2 separate regions of the Homo sapiens genome follow, and region 1 is linked to region 2. The links come from fine-mapping of genetic effects on plasma protein levels. Region 2 holds a variant in brackets. A gene starts in the other region. All regions are shown on their reverse strands. Region 1 holds the start of CCN4 (cellular communication network factor 4). Region 2 holds the start of QSER1 (glutamine and serine rich 1).

What was found. PIP is the posterior inclusion probability: the model's chance that the variant is causal. Protein levels are from antibody-based Olink assays in UK Biobank. Linkage for the fine-mapping came from a reference panel and not from the study's own genotypes, which makes the PIPs less certain.
Region 1: it holds the start of CCN4, and the variant in region 2 is fine-mapped to the plasma level of the CCN4 protein (UK Biobank, PIP 0.98).

Annotation. Positions count from the first base shown.
Region 1 is chr8:133,185,845-133,195,881 of GRCh38, reverse strand. It overlaps CCN4 (cellular communication network factor 4), which reads right to left and starts at 4,843. Exons shown (of 5, transcript NM_003882.4): 1 at 4,669-4,843. The coding sequence starts at 4,737. RefSeq lists a silencer at 3,724-3,971.
Region 2 is chr11:32,888,745-32,898,781 of GRCh38, reverse strand. QSER1 (glutamine and serine rich 1) reads right to left here and starts at 5,971. Exons shown (of 13, transcript NM_001076786.3): 1 at 5,448-5,971. The coding sequence starts at 5,656. RefSeq lists silencers at 5,199-5,598, 5,679-6,298 and an enhancer at 7,046-7,620. The variant C/GGCGGCC (reference allele first, on the strand shown) is at 5,939.

The DNA.
Region 1 (10,037 bases), not on the chromosome of region 2:
TCCTGGGAAGATCCCTGGGTTGCTGTTTATACAAAGCCAAGGGCAGCCTCCTGGCATGTGGGTGCTTTGCTGGCACAGGGCCGGAGCCTTTTCTAAAACCTGGGGGTGGTTGGTGGGGCTTGCTGTGGAGCCAGGAGTGCTGCTCAGCCCACAAGGTAGCGTTTTGTCTCTCAAGGAGCTGGTTGGGCGGAGGCCTGTTCCCGTGCCCACTCCTTCTCCAAATGCCATGCCGAGGGGGAAATGCCTTTCAGTGCCGTCCTCGTGCCAGCCTCCAAGATAAGCTGTCGGCTGGAGGGGCCCTGAGCTGGCAGCAGGGGCTTCAGGGAGCCCAAAGAGGCTCTGGGTGGGGAGTTGGGGGTGTGGGGCCTGGATGGGGTTTGAAATCTTCACTCAGATTCCAACTCTAAACAGGAGGTGTGAAAAGACATATTGTTCACATTCTCTGTTTTCTAAAGGGGATATTTTGCCATACACTTGACCCACATTATTCTGCAGTTGCTTCTGGAAGCAGAGAATGAGTTTGTATCTCACACCCAAACACAAGGTTCACACACACACACACCACACACGCAAACACAACACATACACACTCAACACACACACACCACCCACACACTACAAAAACACACCACATATACACTCAACAGACACACACCACACACATACACACACCATACACACACCACACACACACCACATACACAAACACACCACATACACACTCAACACACACACACCACAAACATGCTCACACCATACACACACCATGCACAAGCACCACGCACACCACACACACACAAGCACACTACATACATAATACACACCACACACATACACACCATGCATACACACGCATACCACACACCACACACACAACACACACACAAACCACATACACACTCAACACACACACCACACACATACACAGACACCACACACACACCACACACACAAACACACCATATACACACTCAGTACACACACCACACACATACACACACAAAAACACACCACAAACACACTCAACACACACACCACACACCACACACACACGTACCACACACACCACACACAATAAACACCACACACACACACCACACATCCCCCCCACACACCCCAGGCACATACCCCACAAACACACCACACACACACTACACACATCCCCACACACACCACACACACCCTCCACACACACACCACACACACACCACATCCCCCACCACACACGCACACACGCACACACCCCACACACCCCACACACACTACACAAACCCACACACACACACCCCACACACCCCACACACCCCTCCATACCACCACCCCCCCACACACACCACATACACACCACACACACCCCCACACACACCACACTCATGTTCCACACACACCACACCCCCCACCACACACACACACACCCCACACACATACCACACACACACCACACACACATACCACACACACACCACACAAATCCACACACACCCCCACACACCACACACACACCCCACACACACACCCCCACACACCACCACCCCCCCACACACACCACACAGGCACACACATACACACACACACCACACACACACACCAGACACACCCCACATACACACCATACGCATACCCCCACACACCCTCTCACAAACACACCCCACCCCACACACACACAGTGCAGCTATGCACATCCCACATGCACTGATACAGGAGGGAGGATGTGGGTTTTACCTGTAGACCTATACATAGACCACCACAGGCCTAATGCTTGCCCAGGATTTTATCACTCAGCTTTCGTTTGCTGAATTACACACTTCTGAGAGGTTTTCCTCAGGCACATTTTCACGTTCAGCAGCAGGGAGCTTGGTGTGGTGAGACAGTTAGTCCCAATTAACAAACGAGGAAAGTGAGGTCTGAGGTGCAACGGGACTTAGTGCGGCCGACACAGCCAGTGGCAGAGCCTGATTCCAGCCCCTCTACTCTGGCTGACGTTACCCCTGTCACCTGCCCCACTAGCCAGTAAACTCTGTCGGGCAGGGACTACATGCCCCTGGTTTCTGCCCTTGGACCAGGGAGGCAGGAGGCTACATTACCAAGAGCTGGACCAAGGTTCAAATGTCAGCTTCCCTGATTACCAGCTGTGTGACCTTTGACAAATTACTTAACCTCTCCGAGTCTCAGTTTTCATATCTGTTAAGGAGGATAATTGCACTTGCTAAATAATATTGTTATGGGAATTGTAGAATGTGCCTAATAAATGTTTGTTGGGTGAACTGAGGTTGGTCTTATACATGTGTTGGCTCAGTGCTTGCTAATGCACATTAAATGGAGTCCCTTTCTCTTAGCACATGGCGGACATGCTCAACAAATGCAGAAGAAAAGAATAAAGAGATGAAAGCATAAGTCATATTTGCAATACACCTTTAGCACAGATTAAATTCCCAAATACACTCGGCTGTTCCTGAGATCACTCCAGTGCCTTCCTCCTTGGCTGATCTCCTTCTGGGCTGCCATCTTCCTCCTTCCACTGCAGAATCTTTACAGAGTGCTTTCATATCTCCCAGAGAAGTCCCCCTTGTAACTCTACTTCCTCAAAGTTTTCTTGGCAATTCTCACATGCATTTTCTTCAATATGAACATTTACAACAATTTTTTCCATTAAGATCTCACTGAGACCCTGGTTGGACATGTGCTCCCTTTGCATATTAATTCGGGAGGATGACCATGTATGGAATTTGGCTATGAAACAAGGCTGGTTTCCAAATGGAGTCCAGCTCGTTTCTATCAGTCTCACAGCCCACACAGGGGGCGGGGCTTTCAGGACATCCTGAGAACTCCAGTGCCGTGCACACCTCTGTCCCAGAAGCATCTAAATCATGAAACAAGCATGGGGTGGGTGGTCTGGGTTCCCCAGGCAGGGGCTGCCTAGAAGAGAGGTACCTTGTGCTGGTCCCGGGAGCCTTCCCTCCAACCTGCTCCCTGGGTCCCTCCACACGCTCTGCTCCTTTGCTGGTCTCCTCTGGCTGAGTCCTCGGCTCTGTCCTTCACTCCTCCTCAGCACCGGCTGTTCTGGGAGCTGACTGGGGCTCCAGAGTACTTGGACTCATGCTTAAACCTCTCGCCTCCTCTGCCCACTCAGACTTTGGCTTCTCTCAAACGCTCACCTTTTCTCCATCCTCTCCCTGCCCTCCCAGACATAGCAACCTGCAAAGCTATACCCAAATAAAGGCGCAGCCATACCCAGAGCCGAAATAAACAGCGACTTAGCTCCTTCTGGGCACTCCTGTAGGACACAGTCAGCTTCCCCTAAGTAGGAATGGTTAGAAATTGGCATCAGAAGATCTAAGTTTGGGCCCTGGCCACTTATTAATGAGGAGCTCCTGGGCAAGTCCTTTACTTGCTCTCACTTTCCATTTCTTTCATTTGTGAAATGGAGCTGATAACTTTCTGGTAAGGTGGTTCTGAACCAACTATAGTCAGGCACCATGCCAGGCGTGAGGATTTAACCAAGATGAAACAGACCCACTCCCCGCCATCATTACACACACCGAGGCATTGAGAGGAATTCCTATTTCCCAGGTCTCAGTTTGCTGTCGGCTCTCGGCCTCAGTTCTGGCTGAAGCAGACCTAGAGTCTGATTCTGGCAAGTGGTTTAACCCCAACACACGGTTTCCTTATCTGTGAAGGGGGCTTCTTAACCCCCAAGGAAGCCATCAGTGTCATTTGGGGATAAACACTCTTTTGCCATCACCCCTCCGTCTCTAGGCTGTTCTGCCAGGAGCAGGTCCTGCCCTGGGCTGTGGAATCTGGGGCTCAGAAGCTGCCAGGTACCCACCTCCTGCCCTCCTTGCACTGCCTGCCTCTGCCTTTTCCTCACCATGCCTGGCCCTAGCAGGCTGGCTCTACACGGTCACATATGTGACTCCCCTGGCTTTTGGAGGTGCAGACCTTTGTCCCTTCCCCTTGGTGTACCCTGGGGTGCAGGTGGAAGAGAGAGAGACTCTGGGGTGCCCACATCACCCCCACCCTGGAACAGCAGGCTTCATAGGCAGGACCCAAGTATGGACACTCTGCAGACTGCAGAGGGCTGTGCAGACCGGAGGTGACAGCAGTTGGGGTTAGACATCACCCTGAGCACTGTTTGCTCAATAAGGAGCTTTTGTTGAAAGCTGGCATTTTTCTTTCCAATTTTTTTTGGCTTTTTCCATCTCCCATCTTCGCAGCATCTCCAATGCTTGGAGTCTTGGAGTTTTCAAACTCAGAGACTCTAGAAGTCACCTAACAACTTCGTCGCTTTACGCTGCTCCTGGAGGGTGAGTGACCCACCCGAGGCCACACAGCCAGGTTAGGCGAAGACGGGTCTGGAGCCCGGGCCCCTGACTCCCAGTTCTGCTGAGGGCCCCGTTCTTTCTGCACTGTTTCAGGTGGGGAGAGAGGGCAGGCTGGACCTGTGCAGTTTGTTTCCCCAAGTGTCGCACCGTCCTCCTCACCCTGCCAGCTTCAGCCAACCTGGGCAGCTGACTCCTCACCCTGGGCTCTGTCCTTGCCCTGTAAGTGGCCACCTTCCAGCCCCAAACCTTCCTGGCCCTTTTCATCCTGCCCACCAGCCCCCATGTAGCAGGACCCAGTAGAGAAGGGAGCTGGGTCTCCCTCTGAGCCCCTCCAGGCAGGACTCACCGTGGCCAGGACGGTGCTGGCGGCTGCTGCTGTCACTGCTGCCAGCGTCCAGGGCAGGAACCACCTCATGCCTGGACGTCAGTGGCACAGGCATCGACCGAGCAGCCCAGAGGATCCGACCACCTCTCGGGGGAGCTGGGCCCAGACTGGCCGGCCCATCAGGAGCACCAGATATGCCTCTTCCGCAGCCCTTGGGGGGTTTTATTAAAGCAAGATCTGACGTCAGGGTGAAGGACAAACCCTGCATTTTCCTCTGAAAAAACTTTTCCTGCCTCTCTCTCTTTTTTTTTTTTCTTTCTTCCCTCTGTCCCCACCTCCAGCCTGAGCTTGGCCAGCCTCCCCAGCTCTGACAGTTCTTAAAGGGAAAGTTACAAGGCTATGACTTCACACTAGGGTGTGAAATTCTCACAGAGGAGCTGGGGTCATCCTGCCTAGGTCTTTCACTACTGTAGGGAGGGGGGAGCATGGGAGGGTGCAGGATGTCCGAGGAGATACTGTTACCCCAGGCAGGCGGGTGTGTGGGCTTTGAGAGGGCTCCCAGTGGGAAATCAACTCCCTGTCATTTCTTCAGGCTGCTCCTACTTCTGGTTTTCTTTTTCCTTTTCTTTTTCTTTTTCTTTTCTTTTCTTTTTTTTTTTTTTTTTTTTTTTTTTTGAGACAGAGTCTCGCTCTGTCGGCCAGGCTGGAGTGCAGTGGCGCGATCTCTGCTCACTGCAACCTCTGTCTCCCAGGCTCAAGCAATTCTCCTGCCTCAGCCTCCTGAATAGCTGAGATTACAGGCATGTGCCACCACACCCAGCTGATTTTTGTATTTTTAGTAGAGACGAGGTTTCACCATGTTGGCCAGGCTGGTCTCAAACTCCTGACCTCAGGTAATCCGCCCACATCAGCCTCCCAAAGTGCTGGGATTACAGGCGTGAGGCATTGCGCCCAACCCTACTTCTGGTTTTCATTTGCCCTCTTGCACTCCCCTCTACCTAGCTGCAAGCGAAAGAGGTGGCTTTCAGTCCACCCATCTAGAGATGATAGGAATTCACAAATAAAATGAGCTCTGAGGCTCAGGTTACAGCATCACCTTCATGACACGTGAAAGCCACGGTAACGCATTTGCTGTTTGCCGTCTCTGCTCATTGGTCAGAAGCCGTTTGGTGCTGGAGCTGTCCCCACGTGTCTCTGGATGCTTGCTATCCCTGGGGGGTTGGGTTTCCTGGCCTGTACCCTTATTGCACTGCTGCCACTGAGTCTCTTCCTTGGGCAAGAAAGGAGATGGGATGTCTTCTATGGGCTGTCCTAGTCCAGCCCTGTGCTCCCCATGGGGACCGCTGCCACAGCCTCCTGACTGATACCCAGCCTCCCTGCCCACCTTCTACCATCCACACATCTCAGAGCAATCCTTGAACTAGCGTCATGTATAGATCATCTTCTGGATACAACTGTCCAAAGCCTGCCCATCACACAGCACAGAGTCCCCAGTCCTGGCGTGGCCCCTGGGCCAGCCAGCTCCCTGTACACTTCTTCCTCTCTCCCTTTCGTGCACCATGCCCAACCACAATGGCCTCCTTGCAACTCCTCTCACACCTTGGCAAGTTCTCAGCATCTCCAGGTCTCAGTAGGAATACTCGACACTGAGGTTTAAATGACAGTTACTCCTTCTCTTCTCTTTTCCTGTAGCTTATTAACAAGGGATGCTGAAGCATGTGTGGCTGCTTGGAGGTAGCAGCAGGCTTGTGTTCATGGAAGAGGTTTATGATCCCTATAGACATGACCCCAGAAGAGATGGTGCTCATGATTTCTCCATTTACTGACCTGGGGATGTGCCTCTGATCCAATTCCGGCCAATGAGACATAAGGGAAACCTGCTAGGGTCTTCTAGAAAAGATTCCCTTCCTCAGGAAGAGAATGACCATCTACTCATTCTTTTCTTTCCTTGTGTGCAAATGTGATGGTTGGAGCTGCAGCAGCCATTTTGGGTATATGAGGCTGAGAATAAAAAGTCAACAAATTGAGGATGGCAGAGTGGAAGCAAAAAAAAGGTCTGAGTCGTTGGGACTTCATGTTGTTGTTGGAGCCACCATTCAGACTTCTCATTACATGAAATAATTTAATATTTTATTGTTTAAACTGTAGTTAGTCTGAATTTTCTTTTGTTGGAGTCAAGTTGTATACTAATTGATACATGAGGATTACTAAAATCATATATGTAAAATTAAAGGGCAGGGTATGTGGGGGGCATGTAAGGACTGCCCAATAAATGTCAGTCATTTTCTTCTCATTAATTTATTGATGCTTAAAAACAAATCCCAGGCTGGGCACGGTGGCTCACACCTGTAATCCCAGCACTCTGGGAGGCCGAGGCGGGCAGATCACAAGGTCAGGAGATCGAGACCACCCTGGCTAACACAGTGAAACCCCGTCTCTACTAAAAATATAAAAAATTAGCCAGGCATGGTGGCGGGCACCTGTAGTCCCAGGTACTCGGGAGGCTGAGGCAGGAGAATGGCGTGAACCCTGGAGGCAGAGGTTGCAGTGAGCCGAGATCGCGCCACTGCACTGCAACCTGGGTGACAGAGCAAGACTGTCTCAAAAAACAAAACAAAACAAGCAAACAAACAAAGCAAAAAATAAATCCTAGGAGGCCAGCATTGTTGACAGGTGTCATTAATAAATAACCCAAGGTGTTAGGGGCCAATCTAGGCTCACTTGGCTTTTGATGAACACTAAGTATGAACGGGCTCTGTGCTGTAGAGCATCTCATGACTACAAGGCAGACAGTGTTATGAAATAGGTGGAACACATCTCAGAGATGCTAGATGGTTTCAGAGCACACGTATGAGTAGTAGATCTGAGGCTGAAACTAAAGTCTCTTAACCTCAGACAAGGCACAGAGTCAGGACCAGACATTTCCAAGCCAGCTTGACCTGCCAAAGCCTCTCAATGTTAAGTGTAACAAGAGCCTGCAGAGCTGGAAGCCATTGAACTCCACCATCATTTTTAGGAAATCCAATTGTCTCGAGCAATTGAAGCAGGCACCCCAAAACATGATCAAAGTGCTGACCATTCCACCTGTGGGTGAAACCTCACATGACCCGGTGAGCCTCATGGGCACCTGCCATTCTTCAATGTCAGTGAAACTGAAAACAAACGGCCCAGTGACCTGGCCAGGATGGTAGATTTGGAGGCAGAATGCCAAGGTGTCCCCCAGCTCTTCCATTTACTGGGGGCCTCGGACAATCAACAACCTCTCTGTGCCTCAGTTTTGCTTGTTTAAAGAAATGATGTTAGTGTCTACCAGATAGGGTCCTCAGGAGGCCAAAAGGGGATAATTGGTATGTCCCCACTTTCCTGATTAGAGGAGCCAGTATGGGCCGCAGCCTAGGCTGCTACGATTGGGTTGTTGTGTGTCCATCCCCACAAGAGCCGGGCAAACACTAAGTGTCTGGCCAGTGGACCAGAACAATAGTTGCTGTGTTCCAGGTGACACCATCTCACCAAATCCTCATCTCAATTCATTCTCACAACCAGTCTCCCATTAGACATTATTATCCCCATTCGACAGATGAGGAAATGGAGGCATGGAGAGATAAGTAACATTTCCCTGCCATTCGGCTAGTACATGGCAAAATTGTGATCTGAACACAGATCTGTGCAGCTTCAAACAATTTTTTTCCCCAAGTAGAGCCAGCTTCCTCATGTGTTGAACAAATAAATGAATAAGTAAGGAATGAATGAATTCAGTAGATGATGGACGGATGGGCAGAGGGATGGAGGCACTCAAGTATGGGGAGATCATACCACTGTTTGGAATGTCCCATTTCCCAGGACTTCCAGGGACAGTCTTCCGCAAGGATGTCCCCCTGTCCTAATCACTTCGTCTAAATAGGCCCTCCGGGCTGGTCTGTAGCTCAGTCACCCACTTTCTTCCTTCATGGTTCTAGCCCTGTGTGCCATTGTTTGTTTATTGAGTATTGATCATTTCCCACATAGATTTTGAGGTCCAAGGGTGAGACCAGGCCCACATCTTCTTATCTATACTGTGTCCACAGCATCAGCACAGAGCCTGGCATGCAGAGGGTACTTGAGACATATTTTTTAGTGAATGACCAAATGAACCAATGAAGAAGTAGATGAGTGAGGTGGTGAAGGGATGTATGGGTTGAAGAATGAAGGGAGGAAGGAGGAAATACTTGGAGGAGAAGACAAATGTGTCCACACATGCTCCTCAAGAGCCAAACTCTGCTCCCTCAAGGTGCTGAGAGGAAGATGAAGCCCATTTCAGGTCTCCAGGAACCACTTATGGAGGGAGCATCAAGGCGTAAATGAAAGACGGAGGTGGCCGTCATCCTGGCTGAGCCCAGGTAAGAGTGTGCAGGTTGCAGGTCCTGGGGGTGATCTTCTGCCTTTTCTCCAGGAGTCGGGCCCATAGGCATCACACAGGGTGACTTATTTTCATTGTCAATGGTGATTTATTGGTACCGGTGCTGCAGAGGGTTCATGGCATGCTGCCAAGGCTACACAGGGTCCCTCTCTGAACAGGGTCCCTCTCTGAACAGGGTCCCCTCTAAACTTAATTTACCAATGTTCTCCCTTGATCCTAATTCCCCATGCCTCTCCTCTGCTCCCCACTGACAACAGGATCTGCATCCCTGAACTTGGATGATTTGTCTGCACGTGTCCTTGTAAACACTGTGAGGTTGTTCATTCAATAATCACATATGGAGTACATACTATGTGCTAAGCACCTTTGAGATAGGTGCTCAAACCACGTCCTCCTTATATTTGAGGAAATCAAGGCACAGAAAGCTAAAGGAACTGGCTCCAGGTCTCACAGCTAGCAGGCATTTGACTACAGACTGGAGCCAGAGAGTGGGCTCCTGAGTCCTGCGCCTTTGTGAGTTTTTAATATAGGTAGGTGGTGGGTGCTACAGCCTCCTTCCATTTTTCCTCTTTTCCACTGAGTTCTATATTTTTCAGATCTGTCTGGCAGCCCCTTCCTAGTGAGTGGCTCCTGACTGCTGCCTTGGTTTCCCCAGTGTGACTTCATCCCATCCCCCATGAGGGACCCTTAAGTTCCCTCCAACTCCCACCAGCAGACCCAGCCACTGCTACTTTCAGGCCTGTTAAGGAATTCCTCTGGGATTCAGGGCTTGCCACCTTGGCTGATGTCATTCTCATGTGGCTGATGGTTCAACGCTGTCCACACAGGCCTGGGTTGAACTTCTACCTCCTGCTACTTACTGCTGTGAGCCCTGGGAGAAGTCACATAACCTCTCTGTGTTCTGGTTCCCTTGTCTATAAAGTGGAGATGAGAGAGGTACTGATCACTCTTTTTTTTTTTTTTTTTTTCTTGACGGAGTCTTGCTCCATCTCCC
Region 2 (10,037 bases):
GTCAACATAGCAAGACCTCATCTCTACAAAAAATTTAAAAATTAGCCAGGTGTGGTGGCACATGCCTGTAGTCCCAGCTACTTGGGAGGATCACCTGAGCCCAGGAGGTCGAGGCTGCAGTAAGCTGTGTTCATACCACTGTACTCCACCCTAGGCAGCAGAGTTAGACCCTGTCTCAAGAAAAAATAAAAAAGAAAATAAATTAAAAAAAATTGGTCAGTAAACGCAGAGCCATACAGAGCACATTACAATGTGTGTGTGTGTGTGTGTGTGTGTGTGTGTGTGTGTGTGTGTGTGTGACAGGTTCTCACTCTGTCGCTCACACTGAAGTGCAGTGGCACCATCACAGCTCACGGCAACCTCCACCTCCCAGGCTCAAGCCATCCTCCCACCCCAGCCTCCAGAGTAGCTGGGACCACAGGCGCACGCCACCATGCACGGCTAATTTTTTCTATTTATTTTTTGTAGAGATAGGGTTTCACCACGTTGCGTAGGCTGGTCTCAAACTCTTGGGCTCAAGCAATACTCCCACCTCAGCCTCCCAAAGTGCTGGGATTACAGGCGTGAGATATCACGCCTGACCATATTACAGATGTTTAAAAATGTGACCCTAATATGTAGGAGTAGCCATGGAAAGGCTTTAAGCAAAGGACCAAGAGCAAACTTGTAGATCTGTGTTTTTAAAAATCACTCTGGATGGTATAAGAAGAATGAATTGAAGAGAGGAAAGAAAAGGTCCAAGATGACTAAGTTAGGAAGCTACCACAGTTGTCCAAGTGAAAAATAATGGTGGCTTGGACCAGCTGGAGCAGTGGATACAAAAGAAGCAGACAGTTTCAAGACATTAGATTCAAAACAGTAGGTCTTAGTGACTGAGCACACACAACTCCCACCATCTGGCCTGGGCAACTAAGTGGACAGAGGTATGACTACTGAGATGGGCCTCACTAGAGAAGCAGAGGTGTGATGGGTGGGGAAAGCATATCATTAAGCTCAAGTAAAAGGTCAAAGAGGTAGTTGGTTATGTGATCAGGTTTTCAGAAGAGTCTGAGGTCCTGAGAAGAGTCTGCTCAAATATGGGCATCTCCACTGAGATAGTATTTAAAAGCATGGACGTGGATGTGAGTCCGCAGGAGAAAGCAAGGAATGAACAAGAAATTTATCAATCCCAAGCCCTGAGGAAACAGTAACATGCAGAGATTAGACAGAAGAGGAGTAAACACCAGTGAAGAACAGGAAAAAGCGTTGGGCCAGAAAAGTAGGAGGAAAACCAGGCAAGTACAGTGCTATGGAAGTGAAAAGGAATGTATTTCAACTAGGTAATGGTCAACGGTGACAAAGAACACTTAAATAAGGATATTAATGATGCTTAGGTTTCCAGGCCAACTCACAGAAACTCATTTCACATATAGGTGGATTACAGCATTCCACTATCTTACAATAAAGCAGTGCAGTACACTGGTTATCACATAGGCTCCAGATCTGCAATGCCCAGGTTTCAATCACAGCACCACTATTTACTAGCTATGTAGCTGTAGGTATAAATTACTTCATGTCTCTATCCCTCAGTTTCCTCATCCATAAAAGGATGGTAAAAAGAATGCCTACCTCAAAGGATTTTTATAATGAATTTTGATAAATGAATGTATGTATTCATTTATTCATGATAAATGAATTTTGATAAATGAATGTACGTGTGACTTAAAACAGCTAGCACAAATTAGTTGCTAGTGATGTAAATGACAGCTACTATTACTTACAACACGGTTTCCATGGGAAAAAACTTTCTGAACTCTAACAGTGGAAGTTTGTCTGAAATAACCTTTCATTAACTTGAGATTGTTCTTACGCCTTACAAATTATGATCTATAAGGCCTTTTCCCAAAAACCTTGAGGAAAACTCTAGATTTGAAATGTATCAAACAAATGTCCATCATATAGAAACTGACAGGTTTTAGAAGAGCTAATCATTACTTTGGTTTTTCAGAGGAGTATTTATCATACTCATTATACCTCATACTAAAAAAAAGTATGCATTAGGAATTCTAAAAACTGGTGCCAAAAGTTATTTCAAGTTAGAAAGGCAAAAAACAGGCCAGGCACGGTGGCTCACACCTGTAATCCCAGCACTTTGGGAGGCCAAAATGGGCGGATCACCTGAGGTCAGGAGTTCAAGACCAGCCTGGCCAATGTAGTGAAACCCCATCTCTACTAAAAATACAAAAATTACCAGCCTGGCCAATGCGGTGAAGCCCCATCTCTACTAAAAATACAAAAATTAGCCAGGTGTGGTTAGCTACTCAGGAGGCTGAGGCAGGAGAACTGCTTGAACCCGTGAGGCAGAGGGTGCAGAGAGCTGAGATCACGCCGTTGCACTCCAGCCTGGGCAACAAGAGCGAAACTCCATCGCAAAAAATAAAATAAAATAAAATAAATAAACCTATTTAAATACAAAATATTTCCATTCCCTTACTTTCTGGTGCATATTCAAATACGAACACATCGATTATCACCATAAAACAGCCTGCCTCTTCCTGTTGTGACCAAGATATAAGTATCAAGTACAGAATGCGGCAATGGATCTGCAGACTCTTGATGACCTTCTTATTTCCCAAGCTATGCAAAGGTATTTACAACATCCAAAACTGCACCCCAAAAGGTATTTCCAACTGCGTGGTGTTCAGCAAAGGACATGTTCATTCATTTAGTTCCTAAAACGAACTGAAATTAGCATAAATAAATGAAGATTTATATGGCCAGTCCTTATCCCTGTACTTTCCAAGTACCTAGCAAGTACTCTGAGAAATATTCAAAAATCTTTCTATAAGCCCCATTTAAGGTATAATGCTGGAGTTTCCCACTCTATTTTTCCACTGTTAGTACAATAAAACTACCTAATAACTAACAGAGCTGTTGTATTCAAAAAAGTATTGTTTCAAACTCATGAAAAGCTGTTTATCATGTACCTTCCCATCAACTGATGAAAATGATGTATTTCAAGACCAAGAAGGCATAAAGTAGGATGTTAGATCCCTGTCGGCAACAACTGAATGTCATTACCATCTGTCAGCTTCTGAATAGGTTACAGGAAACAAGGTGACAGACAGGCTAATTCTTTATGGATAAGTATCCATATTACATCATCACAACTAGTACTCATTTGCACCTTCACAAGAAACTGCCACAAAGGGGAACAAAAACATTCAACTGATATGTGCATTATGAAAAAGCTTTTTAAAATGGTATAAAAATATAAATAAGCTTCTGAAGTGTAGAATATTTAGACTTACAAGGCATATTTCAGATTTGCCATTTTTGATATAACTGAAATCAAAGGGAATATTTGCACAGTTTGAGGAATAAAATGAGGTATAATTCAGAAGTGTAACTCTGTACAGATGGCCTGATCCCAATACAAGATGTTAACAAAGCAGGCTGGCGGGGGAGGGGGGTAAACCTGCATTTTCTATGCTGTATTTTAGCTGATTCCCCCCACCGCTTATTTTTTAAAAAAGCAGGGGGAGAGGGCATGAGGGGTAATATTTAAGATTCAATAACTTCTAGTAAACAGAAAATAAATCTCCTTTAGATTATGTGTGCCAAGTGAATCTACTTACTGTTTTCAAGTGTGTTTGGGAAGTCATTTCGTGTTACTCTGATAAATAACATTTGGAAAATATGACAAGTAGATTTTAGTTTCTTGCCTCAGAAGTATTCTACTAAAAGAAGTAACTAGGTAGTATTTCAGTTCCATTTACCTAATAAATATTTTTCATTTAAAAGATAAAAAATGCGGCACAAATACCTATCATGCTGTTCAATGATGAGAAAGTAATTTTCATTTGTAAATTATCCTAGTCAATGCAAAAAGCTACTTGAAAAAGATAGTCAAATTACCATCAGCAAGAAATAATGGGTGAAGTGCCAAACGTCTTTCATGAAACTCCTTAAAATGGCTTACTTGTATGTAATACAAAATTATGGCTATTTCTGAAAGGTTTCAGCATTTAATTACTTAGCTCCAAATTGGCACATCACATTATTTTTGTTAACTCCCAAGTCTTGAAAACAAAGGGCCTAAAATTTTCTGAGAAAGCTTATATTCCTATTCTTGAAGCAAATTTTTCTCATTCTTTCACAATCGTCCCAATGGACAATCTAAGACAAAGACCAGCTACCCTTCACACTTATTTGCTCAATCATGAACGTAGAACTTTCGTAAAAACAAAGAAGATAACCTGGAACACGGTAATGTATAAACTTAAAACAAAAGTTCACTTCTGTCGTGAAAAATAATGAAGAAATCTGATGAGATCATAAAGCCACGAAGCTTCCTGTTGGTAGCTGAGGATGAAGTCATTAGCAACCCAGGATTCCCTGGTCCATGTAATCAGAAGCTGCACCTACCAGATTCTGTATTGTTCGGGAGAGGTGGCTTTAAAACACCCCGCTCACCAATTCTCCAAACCAGACCACGCCTTCCAGTTATCATTCAAATGGGACCGTTTCACAGTGTGGCACTACTACACATTTCCCGCGAGCTTAAATATCAAGTAGGAGTCAAAATTTTAGATTCCCTTGGTCATGCAAGATGAACTCTTGAACCCCACGCTACATAATGCACCCGGACCTTAAAGGCCGAGATGGAGAAGCATGCTTTGGTTCTTCAACCTTTACGGCCTTCACTACCCCCACCCCAACCCCCGCCCCATTTCTTCCCAACTCTCAGTCACCCCGAGGCATAGAAGGCAAAGAAAGATTCCTTACTTCCTGCTGTTGTTAAAAGGGGAGGAAACCTAAGAGCAACTTTGAACGCGTGGAAGAAAAATCGCCTAAATCTTGGCCACCAGCGCAAACATATGTCACCCGGCCCTGGAGCCGCGTTCGCGCCCTGCCGGGCCCCCTCTTCTGCCCTGCGCCCCGGGGATTCTCCCGTAGCCCAGCCCTCCCGGGCCCCCCAGTGTCTCCGGGACGCGGTTCCGCGACTCTTCCTCTCCCGCCTCCGCAACCCTCACACGCCGGAGTCCCCAAGACCGCATTGTCGGCCACCCAGGTTCCAATACAATGGATCGCCACTGCCCCAAACTCTCCGGCGCCCCCTTCGGACCCCCGGCGCCAATCCTGGGTCTCACAGATCCCGAGTTCAGCCACGAGCCCAAACTTCACCATGTGAGAGCCCAGGACCCAAGAGGTGACGGAGCCCCACGACTCCCGCCCAGCTATTCCTTCACCCGCCGTCCCCAGGCGCGAATCCTGCACCGGGCGCCCCCACCTACCCGCGACCACCCCGTAGGAGTCATCAGCCGCCTCCCCCGAGCTGGCCGAGGGCGAGCGGAGGGCTCCCCGCCCGGCCCAGACCTCTGGGCGGCGCTGCAACCGAGCGAAGGCCCCAAACGCATCCCCGGCCTTTCCTGGTCCACCGCGACCCCGCCGCCCACCCTCCCTACCTGGCCTTGAGGCTGGGGCTGCTGCCGCTACTGCAGCTGCCACTGCTGCAGCTGCTGCTGGCGGCGGCGGCGGCGGCTCGGGGTTCGTACGCCCAGGCTGGGGCGGGGGGCTGCGCAGCGGCGCTGGCGGGGACGGGGGCGGCGGGGGGCGCGGGCGGCGGCGGCGGCGGCGGCTCGGTGAAGCCCGAGGTCGCGTAGTTCCTGTCCATCGTGGGGGTGGCGTAGGGAGGGCGGGCAGCAGCGGGGGATCCTCCAGGGCTCCGTGTGACGGGGGCGGGCAGGGAGAGGGGGCGGGGGAGGAAGAGGGGGCGGCGGCGGTGGAGGGAGCTGCCCCCTCACATGGCCCCGGCGAGCAGGCGGGAGAAGGGCGCGCTGGCGAGTCTGGGCCGCAAAGACCCGGGCCGCGGCGGGCGGCGAGGCCCCAGCTGGGCGTCAGGGAAGCGGAGGCACCCGCGGCCGGGACTCGCGGCGACGGCGGCGGCGGCGGCGGC[C/GGCGGCC]GCTGCGCCCCATGTTGGTGGATTTCCCAGGATGCACCTCCCGCCCCCCTCCGCCCCGCGGCCTTGCCCCGCCTCCCCTCTGAGCCCCGCGCTTGCCGCTCGCGGGGCTGGCGGGCGGCCGCGAGGCCTCCGCCACCGCAGGACGCTTCGCGAGGGACAGTTGGGGCCGAGAAGGCGCGGGTCCTGCGGGGCCCGGCCGACTTCAGGGACTCCGAGGGGCGCCCGCCAGCCGGAGCCCGCGAACCGCAGACTTCCCGCCTTCCGCAGCCCGGAAGGGAGCTGTCCGCACTCGCCGCGGCCCGCGTGGGAAGGGACCGCGCCTGGCTATCGCCCCGCGCGGGGGAGGGGAAGTGGAGTGGAACCCAGCGTAGGGCGCTGCTCAGGGGTAGCCGGGTCAACGCTTTGCTTGGAGCTCACTATTTGACCCTTCGGGTTATTTTGAGGGACTCCAGTACTCAGTTCCCTGATCGCGATTTCTTTCTCTGCGCCCCAATCCAGAAACAGCTGAGCGAGCTCTTTTGCAGTTCCGCTTACTCCCTCCCCAAAGCTTGCTGGGCTAGAGGACCCTTTTCCTGCTGTTAGGGGAGATTTATATTCAAAGAGATTCAAATTCAAACGTATTATTTTCCAATCCTCGCTGAAAGGGCCTTTCCCAAGGGCTCTTATTAACTGTCCCCACCCCCACCTTGGGGATTTTTCTCGCTCTGGGTTTCAGAATCTTCTATCCCAAGATAGATAACCACCTCTTCATTGATTAATCCAACTACCATCTGGATGACTTTAATTACAATAAATTTAAACTCACCATGCACTCTGATGTTGAGGGGTTTTGTTTGAGACTTGGAACTTCAGCAGGACTCTCTCCCCAAACATTTCCTATCTGATCTCCAAGCTGCTTGGTGTGCGGTAATTTAATGACTATTTGCGGTTCTTCTGTTGCATAGCAGAGTTGTATTTCTTGTAATAACTCACAAGTATTGAAACTAGGGAATCGTACAAATCATCGTTTGGCCCTTGGGCCATAAATTTAAAGGTTAAAATAACAGTAAAATTTCTATTTAATGACCACCTCCTTTTAAAAATCAATATTGGTTTAACACCTATTATGTGCTTAGCACAGAAATCTATCCCTCAAGATAAGCATAACATAAAGGTTTAAGCAAATCAGCCGTAGTGAAAGACCTAATAAACTTGATACGCTATCTCTGATGACCATTGAAAAAGTTTAAACTTTGGTAATAATCTGGTGTTGGATCTGCTATGCCTTGCGAGATTAATTTTGTTCTGGAAGATCCTGTTTTCCTCCTGGCGCCTACATCCTTTTGTTCCTATTCATTCCTTTTTGCAAGTCTTTCTGCACCTGTGATGCTTGGAGCCTGGTCCCCGGGTGGGGAAGCAAGGAAGTGAGTAGTCGTTATTTACACATGAATTCAAACGTGTAGGCACAGCGACTTTGCCAATTTTATGTTAATTACAAAATGCATTTACTGAGGATATCTTTGAAAAGTGGTTTTTCTTTGAAAAGGAATTTGCGAACTAATCTGAGTTCATGCAGAGAAGTAACGTAAATCTTCATTACATTTATTTTTCTTCCTGCAAACTGGAAATGTGGGATCTAAATTAAAAAGTTTTCACAACTAGCTATTATATTTATAAGTACTTTTGTGAGCGCTAAAGTTTTGTCTCTATGAAAAGTATAGGAAATGGAGTGGCATGCTATAAATGTTTTATGACACTTAGTTTGAGATACCCACAACTGGCACTCAGAGTGAGTTACGCAGGCAATACCAAACAAGTGGCAATAAAACCTTTATAGTCCCTCACACCATTATGTAGTTTGTTTATGTCACATAAATCAGGGAAAGATATTAAGGGAAAATTCTAGTGAGTATTTTTAGTAATATTACTCTGTCACCATATGTTCCTTTGCCATTTAAATGAAATTTCCTTAGTTCACTCTAAATCAGTACAATTATATTTATTTTCAAATGTTACATGTCTACAAATAACATCATTACATTTTTTATCAATACTATTTTTAATTGACAAATCATAATTGCATACATTTATGGGGTACAATGTGATGCTTTGATATATGTAAATAAATCTTTTAAAAATTTTGTACACTTGATGATACTATCTGAAGAATGTCTTCTTCCCTACTGAAAATATACTTCCAGCTCTGTGAACGTTTCGGGATCTCTCAAATGATTCGTAACCAAGCTGCTTCAAGTCTGATCTAGGTAATGTCAAACTCTAGAATGAGCATTGTTGGTCCCGTGTTTTTGTTTGTTCGTTTTTTCAGACAGTCTCGCTCTGTCGCCCAGGCTTGAGTGCAGTGGGGTGATCTCGTCTCACTGCAACCTCCGCCTCCCGGATTCAAGCGATTCTCCTGCCTCAGCCTCCTGAGTAGCTGGGAATACAGGCGCATGCCACCACGCCCAGCTAATTTTTTTGTATTTTTAGTAGAGACGGGTTTCACCATTTTGGCCAGGCTAGTCTCGAACTCTTGACCTCAGATGATCCGCCTGCCTCAGCCTCCCAAAGTTCTGGGATTACAGGCGTGAGCCACCGCGACCTGTGAAATACGTATTGATTTTCTAATGGGATGGGAGTTAGGGTGGAAAATGTGGGGAGATTGTTCATGGGCATGTTCTAAGGCATGACTAACTCTAGACAATAAACTCAGAAGGAAGTGGGAGATGGAGGTGAGGAAGAAGGAAAGAGTTTTTTTTGTTTTTTTTCAGACAGGGTCTCGCTATGGTGTCCAAGGCTGGTCTTGAGCTCCTGGCCTCAAGCAATCCTCCCACCTCAGCCTTCCAAAGTGCTGGAAGATTCCTTCTTAAGTGTAGGATTTACTCCAATTCATCTTAAAACCAAACTGCCTTTGATTTAATCAATTTTCAAATCTTGCCCCGATTTTAGAATTGAGATAGAGTGTTTTGGTTTTTCTTTTTTGGGGGGGAAAGGAAAGGAATATGTAAATGACTAATTGGAACTTCTGAATGGGCATTTTTTTTTCTTAGATAGCGTCTTGCTCTGTCGCCCAGGCTGGAGTGCAGTGGCGCGATTTCGGCTCACTGCAAGCTCTGCCTCCTGGGTTTTACGCCATTCTCCTGCCTAAGCCTCCCGAGTAGCTGGGACTACAGGTGCCCGCCACCACGCCCAGCTAATTTTTTGTATTTTTAGTAGAGACGAGGTTTCGTCGTGTTAGCCAGGATGGTCTCGATCTCCTGACCTCGTGATATGCCCACCTCAGCCTCCCAAAGTGCTGGGATTACAGGCATGAGCCACCGCATCCAGCCTGAATGGGCATTTTTAAAGTAGCTTACATATTTATTCATTCAATAGATATGTATTTAGAGCCTAATACAGTGCCAAGCATAATACTAAATGCTGTGAATACGAGGGTAAATTTAATACAACGCCTGTCTTTATGGAACCTGTAATTTATGAGGAAAAGAGGCAGACACACAACTAATTGTAATGCAATAGGATAGTGTTAAATATAATAGAAATTGGAATAAAGCACCAGAGGACAATTGAAAAGGAAGTAATTGATTTTGCCTCTCAAAAAAAAAAAAAAAAGAAAATAAGTATTTCAACTGGTAGAAAGATTGTAGTTCTATTGAGTACATAGTTCATTGCCTTCCTTTTGTAGTTGAGGAAGCTGAGGCCTGGTATTGAGTGACTTGCTTTAAGATGATGGAGGGAATCAGTTGGGGTGAGACCCAGGAAACCCCATCTTCACTGAGGTGGCCTTGTTCATTAGCTTGTTGGGAAATGCAGAATTTGGGGTTGCCTAACTAGAAATGTAGTCAGTAAGTCCACACATTCCTATGTTATAAATAGACCAACCATCAAGAAGAAAGATCCAAGAAGGTCAAGTTTGTGGTTTCACTGAGAATACAAGGAATATGTGTGTGAGAAGTGATTTGAACAGGGAAAGAAGATATGGTTTTAAATTTTTCCCTTCTCTTCTGGCATTGAGGGAAACTATAAGCCCTGTCTTTGCCAGAGCAGCCCTGGTTTCCATCTCTTAGGTCAACATCATAAATTAAATTAAAACATCAGAAAGGAAATAAAAATTAGCCAGGCA